3 linked regions of the Homo sapiens genome follow. The protein of the gene in region 3 purifies or fractionates together with the protein of the main gene of each other region. This does not show direct contact. Each region holds a gene or a part of one and is shown on either strand. Other genes may lie near its edges.

Region 1 (3,662 bases), on a different chromosome or scaffold from region 3:
GAGCCGGTGGCCTGGGCTGAGTGAATGTAGAGAGGAGGGGAGGCCTGTGGGCCAGGTCAGCTGCCACTCTGGGAACAGACACCTACAAGAGCCACATGCCTGGTTCCTGGGGCAAGAACGTGGGCTGCTCTGACCAAGTGGGGCCCTGCAGAGAGGCTCGCCTCTTAGAAGTGAACCACCCACCATTAGCCATGTCAGTGGAAGAGCAAGCACATCAGGGACCCATGGAAACAGCGAGGTGGGCTGCGATGAGGATGCTGCTTCCTGGTGTGGTAGTGATGACGGTCACAGCAGCTGCTCTCTGTGGCCCTACTGTGTTCACAGCTGGTGCTGAGCCACATATGTGCCAGGTGCACACACACGCAGACGCATGCAGGCAGGCATCAGTGTACACACTGATGTGCACACACAGATGTACATGGAGACAGATGCACACACAGGCCTATGCACACACGTACGCATGCCCACACAGGCACCTGTGTCCACACACATACAGATGCACCCACAGCATCCCATCTGTGCCACACACTGACATAGGTACATGGAGACAGATGCACACACAGGTCTGTGCACACACGTATGCATGCACAGGCACCTGTGTACACACACGTACAGATGCACCCACAGGATCCCATCTGTGCCACACACAGACGTAGGTACATGGAGACAGATGCACACACAGGTCTGTGCACACACATACATACGCATGCACAGGCACCTGTGTACACACATGCAGATACACCCACAGCATCCCATCTGTGCCACACACAGACATAGGTACATGGAGACAGATGCACACACAGGTCTATGCACACACATACGCATGCACAGGCACCTGTGTACACACACGTACAGATGCACCCACAGGATCCCATCTGTGCCACACACAGACGTAGGTACATGGAGACAGATGCACACACAGGTCTGTGCACACACATACATACGCATGCACAGGCACCTGTGTACACACACGCAGATACACCCACAGCATACCATCTGTGACACACACAGACGTAGGTACATGGAGACAGATGCACACACATGTCTGTGCACACACATACATACGCATGCACAGGCACGTGTGTACACACATGCAGATACACCCACAGCATGCCATCTGTGACACACACAGACGTAGGTACATGGAGACACATGCACACACAGGTCTGTGCACACACATACGCATGCACAGGCACCTATGTACACACATGCAGATACACCCACAGCATCCCATCTGTGCCACACACAGACATAGGTACATGAAGACAGATGCACACACAGGTCTATGCACACACGTATGCATGCACAGGCACCTGTGTACACACATGCAGATGCACCCACAGTATCCCATCTGTGCCACACACAGACATACGTACATGGAGACAGATGCACATACAGGTCTATGCACACATGTACACATGCACAGGCACCTGTGTACACACATGCAGATGCACCCGCAGTATCCCATCTGTGCCATACACAGACATACGTACATGGAGACAGATGCACATACAGGTCTATGCACACATGTACACATGCACAGGCACCTGTGCACACATATGCAGATGCACCCGCAGTATCCCATCTGTGCCACACACAGACATACGTACATGGAGACAGATGTACACACAGGTCTATGCACACATGTACACATGCACAGGCACCTGTGTACACACATGCAGATGCACCCGCAGTATCCCATCTGTGCCACACACAGACATACGTACATGGAGACAGATGCACACACAGGTCTATGCACACATGTACACATGCACAGGCACCTGTGCACACATATGCAGATGCACCCGCAGTATCGCATCTGTGCCACACAGACATACGTACATGGAGACAGATGTACATACAGGTCTATGCACACATGTACACATGCACAGGCACCTGTGCACACATACATACAGATGCACCCGCAACATCCCGTCTGTGCTGCCCTATTAGGTTTGTGGCCATTTGGGGAATCTTCCTAAAACCCTAAAAGCTAGGGCAGGTCTGCTTGAGCAGGAGCAGCAGGGTCTGGGGGACCCCTGAGGGCAGGACAGTCAGGGACCCACAGTTGAGCTGGGCCCGCTGAGCCCTGGATCCTTCTTGGTGTCTTATCCTGGCCAGCAAGCAAGTGTGAGCTCCTGTGGGTCTCCAGAGGCCCATGAGGACCAGTGGGCCAGTTGGGAACAAGGCTTGGCGTCCTCTTCAGGGGGGAACACCAGGGCAGGCCTGAGGAGGCCTGTGTCCCCAGCCTGTCATTGCTGTGGCTCCGCTTCTCAGGGAGCCTAGGAAGAAGGTGTGGCAAGAGCCCGAGGCGCTGGCTGCACCTGGCGGGGCCTGTGGGCGTCAGTTTAGACCCATCCATTCTCACTGCAGCATTCCAGGGTTTGCCCTTATGCTCGGCTGTGTGAGGGTGAGGATGATGCTGTGGGGGCATGCATGCTGGGTGTGTTTCAGCCTTCTCTTCCACCAGGCATCCTGACATCGAGGCCCAGGAGAGAGGAGTCCGGTGTCTACTTGAGAAACAGCTCCCCAATGGCGACTGGCCGCAGGTATGCCGCCAGGGACCTGAGCGCACAAGGCCCAGCACTGACCTCCAGCGTGCATGGCTGTTTCCACGTCCCCCTGCTCTGTGTCCTTTTTGGGGTACTTTGGACACTTGGGAGGCGTCACCTCTGCCAGTGAATGCCACAGTTGGTGGCAGGTCTGTGGCAGGTGGTCGGGTCCTAAAGTCCAGATCTTGCTGTTGTTTCAAGTGATGCTCTGGGTGGGGGAGGAGCTGGATGGGAGAAGCCAGTGGGCGGGAAGCCTTTTTGCTGCAGGACAGACCCTCCCACTCCAGATGACCTAGTGGCCCCTCACTGAGCCAGAAGTCCCTGTGGTGTGGGTGTCATGAGGTCATGTGAGGCCAACCGCCCTCCCCTGGGATGAGGCTGAGTTGGTGGAAGCTGATGTGGTTGTGAGGGGCTGGTGACCCTGGCTTAGGGTTTGCTGCAGGGCGGGGAGTCTGAGCTGGGCTGATGGTGCCATGACTGATGCGGGATGGACTACTTGCTTTCCTATGCTCTTGCTTAATTAGCCCTTTCCAGGCTGACTCACCCACAAGCCAGCCAAGCCAACAGCCAGGGCTCCAGTTCAGGGACTAGCCCTCAGCTGACTGGTGAAGCCTTTGTGTTTATTTCTCTGTGTTCTTTTAGGAAAACATTGCTGGGGTCTTCAACAAGTCCTGTGCCATCTCCTACACGAGCTACAGGAACATCTTCCCCATCTGGGCCCTCGGCCGCTTCTCCCAGCTGTACCCTGAGAGAGCCCTTGCTGGCCACCCCTGAGAACATGCCTACCTGCTGGGTGCCGTCTGTGCGTTCCAGTGAGGCCAAGGGGTCCTGGCCGGGTTGGGGAGCCCTCCCATAACCCTGTCTTGGGCTCCAACCCCTCAACCTCTATCTCATAGATGTGAATCTGGGGGCCAGGCTGGAGGCAGGGATGGGGACAGGGTGGGTGGCTTAGACTCTTGATTTTTACTGTAGGTTCATTTCTGAAAGTAGCTTGTCGGGCTTGGGTGAGGAAGGGGGCACAGGAGCCGTGACCCCTGAGGAGGCACAGCGCCTTCTGCCACCTCTGGGCACGGCCTCAAGGTAGTGAGGCTAGGAGGTTTTTTCTGACCA
Region 2 (3,662 bases), on a different chromosome or scaffold from region 3:
TTAATAATTTATGAGATATAAAACTTAATTGAACCAGAAAGCAATCTACAATCTTTTCCTTTGAGAAATACTGGAGAGCCTTTAAAAATTCCAATTCTTTAGGCTTCTTCATTTTAAACTTCATGCAGACTCTCTTTCTTCAGATGTTATAATACAGTTGATTGGGTTTAAACTTACTGGTTAACAGTCTCTTTATATTTCTCTCTTGCTAAAAATTAAGAACAAATCAACATGTTTAGAATTTAGGGTGTTTTGAAAACTCTCTTGAGTCTTTATAAGTCCTTTGGGTTAACTCTAAAAGTAGTTAAAGTTGTCTGTATTGATTTCATAGTTTAAGCTCCAGAGTATTCCCTAATTTTCTCCTTCTTGTTCCTTTGTGGGCATCTTCCTATTGCCTCTTGCATAAACTATACTTGCTTGTTTCTAAGACCAATATTGAGCTTTTGGTTGAAATAGTTTGAGAATTTCTTGGGTACAAATTTTTGTCAGATACTTTTCCTACCCATCACTTTTTATATCATTAAAATTAATAATACACATGTATTGAGATTAAAAGAGGGAAGATTTTTGAAAGATGCAACGTGAACCTTTTATAACTAGAGCAGAAAGATTTTTAGCCTCTTTAAAGGAAATCCTGGCATTTAAGAAAATGTGTTTTCATAACAACATGTTTCATTCTCTCATTAACAATTTCTTACTCCATAAATAATTATTGAGGTAGTTGTGAAAAATGCTTACCAGTTGAGGATCTCTTTTATTTGTCTTAACCGTGAAACTAATTTTGAGTTAAAAAGCCCATTTGGAGTTCTTACCACACCTCAAAGCTGTCTGTTTTAATACTTTGAGAATGTGAGGAAGTGTATTTGATAGACTAAGTCTATCAAATACTCTTTAGGGACTTAATTTTTTTTTTTTTTTTTTTGAGATGGAATCTCGCTTTGTCGCCAGGCTGGAATGTAGTGGCGCAATCTCAGCTCACTGCAGCCTCCGCCTCCCAAGTTCAAGTGATTCTCCTTCCTCAGCCTTCAGAGTAGCTGGGATTACAGGCACGTGCCACCACACCCAGCTAATTTTTGTATTTTTAGTAGAGAAAGGGTTTCACCATGTTGGCCAGGATGGTCTCTATCTCTTGACCTAGTGATCCGCCCACCTCGGCCTCCAAAAGTGCTGAGATTACAGGCGTGAGCCACTGTGCCACAGCCAGGGACTTAATTTTTTTTAATGAGTATCTTTTTAACCTGAGATGCTTAAAATACTAAATTTTTTATTGTGGTCCTGGAACTTGTTATATATTAGTTTTGAAAATGGCTAATTTTTACATCTCTGTTTTTAGAAAAGATATATGTGAACTGGAAAAAAAATAAGGGTATGAACGTGAATTGGCTTTAAGTTCAAAGTTTATGATAGCTTAAGGATTTTATAGTCTCTATTTTTTTAAAACCTAGAAAAAAGAATTTTATAAGAAGAAATTGATATAATTATTTATTTTAGCCTGAGTAGTAATGCTTTAAGAACGTATTACTGCCTGGATGGACATTTGGGTAAATAATGATGGAAAATATTAAATTGAGGCAAGGATAACAATTCAGTATATATGATGTATTAAAATTTACTTCAACATTGTCTTAATATAGGTTCACTATTGGTTGTTCACTGATAATGATGGAAAATGTTAAATTGAGGCAAGGATAACAATTCAGTATATATGATGTATTAAAATAAAATTTACTTCAACATTGTCTTAATATAGGTTCACTATTGGTTGTTCACTGATAATGATGACACATGGTTTTTTTTAATAGGTACTCATTTATGACAGATTTGGCCAAGATATAATCTCTCCTCTGCTATCTGTGAAGGAGCTAAGAGACATGGGAATCACTCTGCATCTGTGAGTTTTTACATATTTCTAATAGTGGTATTCATTTAAAGAACATTTATAGAGAAAAATAGTGTTAGGTTACAGTATTTATGTAGTATTGAACATTTTTTCCCTGTATCTTCTTTATTCAACCCCTTATTTCTGGGATTTAAAAAAATCCTCAGTCTGAGGCTTTATAATTTCAGAATTTAAATTTTCTGCCTTGTGGCTTTTCCTTAGATTTGGTTTACCCTCTATGTAAAGGAAAAGAACTAGTAATCTTAAGGTCTCTTCCAGCTCTAAAAGTGTTTTGTTCCTTTAATTTAAATACACAGATTCTCCTTGACCTACAATGGGGTTACATACTTATAAACCCATCATAAGTTGAAATTTTGTAAGTCAAAAAAATGCATTTAATACACCTAACCTACCAAACATCATAGCTTAGCCTCTCCTACCCTCAGCATGCTCAGAATACTTACATTGGCCTACAGTTGGGCAGAGTCAGATCTAACACATAGCCTCCTTTATAATAAAACCGGGCACGGTGGCTCACGCCTGTAATCCCAGTACTTTGGGAGGCCAAGGCGGGCAAATCACAAGGTCAGGAGTTCGAGACCAGCCTGGTCACGTGGTGAAACGCCATCTTCACTAAAAAAAATACAGAAAATTAGCCAGGCATGGTGGCAGGCACCTGTAATCCCAGCTACTTGAGGCTGAGGCAGGAGAATCACTTGAACCCGGGAGGCAGAGGTTGCAGTGAGCCGAGACTGTGCCACTGCACTCCAGCCTGGGCAAAAGAGCAAGACTCTGTCTCAAAATTTAAAAAAAATTAATTAATTAAAATAAAAATAAACTGTTGAATATCTCACGTAATTTATTGACTGCAGTGCTGAAAGTTGAAAACAGAATGTTTTTATAGGTGCTTAAAATATGATTTCTATTGAATATGCACTGCTTTTGCACCATCATAAAGTCAAAAAATCCTAAGTTGAACCATTGTAAGTCAGGGAGTGTCTATATTTTTTTAAAAAAAAGGAATATCTAATTAATCATTAATATGAAAAATTTAAGTGACTATGAAGTAATGACTGTTAATCACCATAGTGGGCTATCTGTGTTGTCTTAACTGTTAAGTTTGTGTGATTATATTGCTTCTGATATGTTTAATAAAAATAAAACAAATGCAGTACTTTATGGGCTTGCCTAGTAGAACATTTGGAGAAGGGGCCAGGCACAGTGGCTCATGCCAGTAATCCTAGCACTTCTGGAGGCCCGGGTGGGCGGATCACTTGAGGTCAGGAGTTCGAGACCAGCCTGGCCAACATGGTGAAACCCCGTCTCTACTAAAAGTACAAAAATTAGCTGGGCATGGTGGCGTACCCACCTGTAATCCTAGCTACTTGGGAGGCTGAGGAAGGACAATTGCTTGAACCCAGGAGGCAGAGGTTGTAGTGAACCGAGATCGTGACACTACACTCTGGCCTGGGCAGCAGAGCAAGATTCTGTTGAAAAAAAAAAAAAAAAAAAAAAAAAGAACGTTTGGAGAAGGACTGTGTTCATGGATAGATACTAATACTTCTGTATACTAAAAGAGTCCAATTTTATGGTGTTCTAAGCTATTTGCATTTTGTTCTATTTATGATGTTATAACCAATTTTTATGATATCATATATTGAATTGAAATGTACTCTTACTGGGAATATAGTTTTAGATTTTCGATAAGTAACTTGACAGAATCTGGTTTAATCAGCTCAAATTCTTCAGTTGTATAATGAGCATTTGTTAATAGACTGTTATA
Region 3 (2,810 bases):
TACTCAAAGGTGTCAATCTGAAATGAAACTACAGAGGTGTTTCAGCGGCATGTTCAATCTGATGTAGGATCTGACACCCCATGCCTGGTCCTCATTAAGGACTCTACTGGTGAGAAATGCAGACACACCTCATCAATTGGGCAATTGGTTACCTACTGGTACACACGTACACACACACACACACACACACACACACCTGAAAACATGTATGAATTCTCAGGAAAGGTATAATCCAAACCCTTACAGAGAAAGAGAAACATTTTCCTAACAAACATATTCTGCACAGTTGCCCTGTGCCACACCTGAGATAGCAGATTATACAGAGTGGTGTTATTTTTCCCTTTGTCCTTCCCTGTACTTTCAAACTATTTCAAACTATGCTCAGATGGTCCAGTGGTCAGACACTGGTACATAAGACAGGGAGTCCAAGAGTCTCCTACTCCACACAGCTACTCCTGTTAGTGACACAGAGGCCTCAGAGAAGCTGCAATAACAATATTTTCCTTATGTTTTGGGTCAAATGAAATCCATGGGTGTGCTGTTCCTCTGTAAGCTCTGTATGTATACAGGGGCAAAGCAAGATGAGGATCTGTTTTTCTCCTGTGTGAGTAAAGCTTCACAAAGAGATTACATATTAACCCAAGACATGTAAGTGCTCCAAAAAGAAGCCAAATCCAGGCACACAGTGCCTTTACAGAATGTGCCTGATACTTATAATTTACTGATTTAATCTGAAGTGAACATAATACTTAGTTGTTTTTTTTTTTTTTTTTTTTTTTTTTGAGTCTCATAGCCCTGTGGACCTAACTTTCCACTGCAGCCTACTAGTTTGGGCAAAAGCAGAGTCATGCCAGACCTATCATAGCCAAAACCTATCCCTGAAACATCCTGGTTAACCTCCTTCTCCTTGATGTCCTCCCATCCCCCATTTCCAATTACCTCCACCTTAAGAGGAGAACTCTGGTAGGCAAAGAACTCTACCAAAGGAACATCTGTCACACATGACTGAGTAGTAGCTTAGAGGATACCAGTTGACAGGAAAGAATGAAAAGCCTTATGATAATGCAAAAGGATTATAGACATGCACAATGTCATCTGCCAAAAAGAAACTGATATTTTGCTTACTTTTTTTTCTCTGAAAATGTTCAGATTTAAATCCATTCTCTTATACTGTTCACCAACTTCACAAAATGATGCTCAAGAGTGCCCAGAGAGTCCTCCTATCTGATTGATGTTCTTATGTCCCGGGCTTTACAGGTGCTTACAACAGAATGCTGCCCTACATCGTCATGGGTAGTCTGACTGTCCTGATTGGAATCCTCACCCTTTTTTTCCCTGAAAGTTTGGGAATGACTCTTCCAGAAACCTTAGAGCAGATGCAGAAAGTGAAATGGTAAGTAGGACTTTTAACAAAATGATACCAAAATGCCTTAGGGAGAATAAGCATGGAAGAATAGCTAGGAAGGTTCTGAAATAGAAGAGTAATAAGTAGAGACTAGCTCTATCAGATAATAAAGCATATTGTTGGCTGGGCACAGTGGCTCACGCCTGTAATCCCAGCACTTTGGGAGGCTGAGGCAGGTGGATCACCTGAGGTCAGGAATTTGAGACCAGCCTGGCCAACATAGTGAAACCTCATCTTTACTAAAAATACAAAAAATTAGCTGGGTGTGGTGGCAGTCACATGTAATCCCAGCTACTCAGGAGGCTGAGGCAGGAGAACTGCTTGACCCAGGAGGCAGAGGTTGCAGTGAGCTGAGATCACACCACTGCACTCCAGCCTGGGCAACAAGAGCAAAACTCCGTCTCAAAAAAAATAAATAAATAATAGGCCAGGCGCGGTGGCACATGCCTGTAATCCCAACACTTTGGGAGGCTGAGGCAGGCGGATCATGAGGTCAAGAGATCGAGACCATCCTGGCCAACATGGTGAAACCCTGTCTCTACTAAAAATACAAAAATTAGCTGGGCATGGTGGCACACACCTGTAGTCCCAGCTACTCAGGAGGCTGAGGTAGGAGAATTGCTTGAACCCGGGAGGTGGAGGTTGCAGTGAGCCAACATCATGCCACCGCACTCCAGACTGGGCAACAGAGCTAGACTCTGTCTCAAAAATAATAATAATAGTAATAAAGCATATTGTTGAGCAATAGTAATTAAAACAATGTGATAATGGTATAGGAATAGAAACCAATGGAATAGGATAGAGTTCAGGATAAAACCCAAGAAAATATAAAAATTCAGTATGTAATAAAAAGTAGCAAAGTCAAGGGGGAATAGTTATTCAGTAAAAGGTATTAGAACATTCAGCTAGACATTTTGAATAAATTAAAAAGTTGTCTCTTTAAAAAATGCATTGGCTGGGCATGGTGGCTCACACCTGTAATCCCAGCACTTAGGGAGATTGAGGCAGGCAGATTGCTTGAGGTCAGGAGTTCGAGAACAGTCTGTCCAACATGGTGAAACCCCATCTCTACTAAAAATACAAAAATTAGCCAGGCATGGTGGCGCACCCCTGTAATCCCAGCTCGCGGGAGGCTGAGGCAGGAGAATCGCTTGAACCAGGGTGGTGGATGTTGCAGTGAGCCGAAATCGCGCCACTACACTCCAGTCTGCGTGACAGAGCGAGACTCCGTCTCCAAAAAAAAAACACATCAAGATAAAATCCAGACAGTTAAAAAATTTAGGCCTAAAAATGTAAAATCATAAATATACCAGGAGGAAACAAACATTTTTATAACCTTAGAGAAGATCTTACTGAGCATAACATAAAATCAAAGAACCATAAAGGAACAGATTGATATATCTGA

The links.
Region 1: the proteins of SLC22A4 (region 3) and LSS purify together in Homo sapiens (affinity purification with mass spectrometry; one large-scale study listed by BioGRID and IntAct). This does not show direct contact.
Region 2: the proteins of SLC22A4 (region 3) and SCFD1 purify together in Homo sapiens (affinity purification with mass spectrometry; one large-scale study listed by BioGRID and IntAct). This does not show direct contact.

The regions. Positions count from the first base shown.
Region 1 is NC_000021.9:46,190,768-46,194,429, reverse strand, and holds part of LSS (lanosterol synthase), read left to right. Parts: intron 1-270; exon of another isoform or gene 271-340; intron 341-2,470; coding exon 2,471-2,549; intron 2,550-3,194; coding exon 3,195-3,326; 3' UTR 3,327-3,662. UniProt on the Homo sapiens protein: Key enzyme in the cholesterol biosynthesis pathway. Catalyzes the cyclization of (S)-2,3 oxidosqualene to lanosterol, a reaction that forms the sterol nucleus.
Region 2 is NC_000014.9:30,628,675-30,632,336, forward strand, and holds part of SCFD1 (sec1 family domain-containing protein 1), read left to right. Parts: intron 1-1,802; coding exon 1,803-1,891; intron 1,892-3,662. UniProt on the Homo sapiens protein: Plays a role in SNARE-pin assembly and Golgi-to-ER retrograde transport via its interaction with COG4. Involved in vesicular transport between the endoplasmic reticulum and the Golgi.
Region 3 is NC_000005.10:132,339,308-132,342,117, forward strand, and holds part of SLC22A4 (solute carrier family 22 member 4), read left to right. Parts: intron 1-1,257; coding exon 1,258-1,393; intron 1,394-2,810.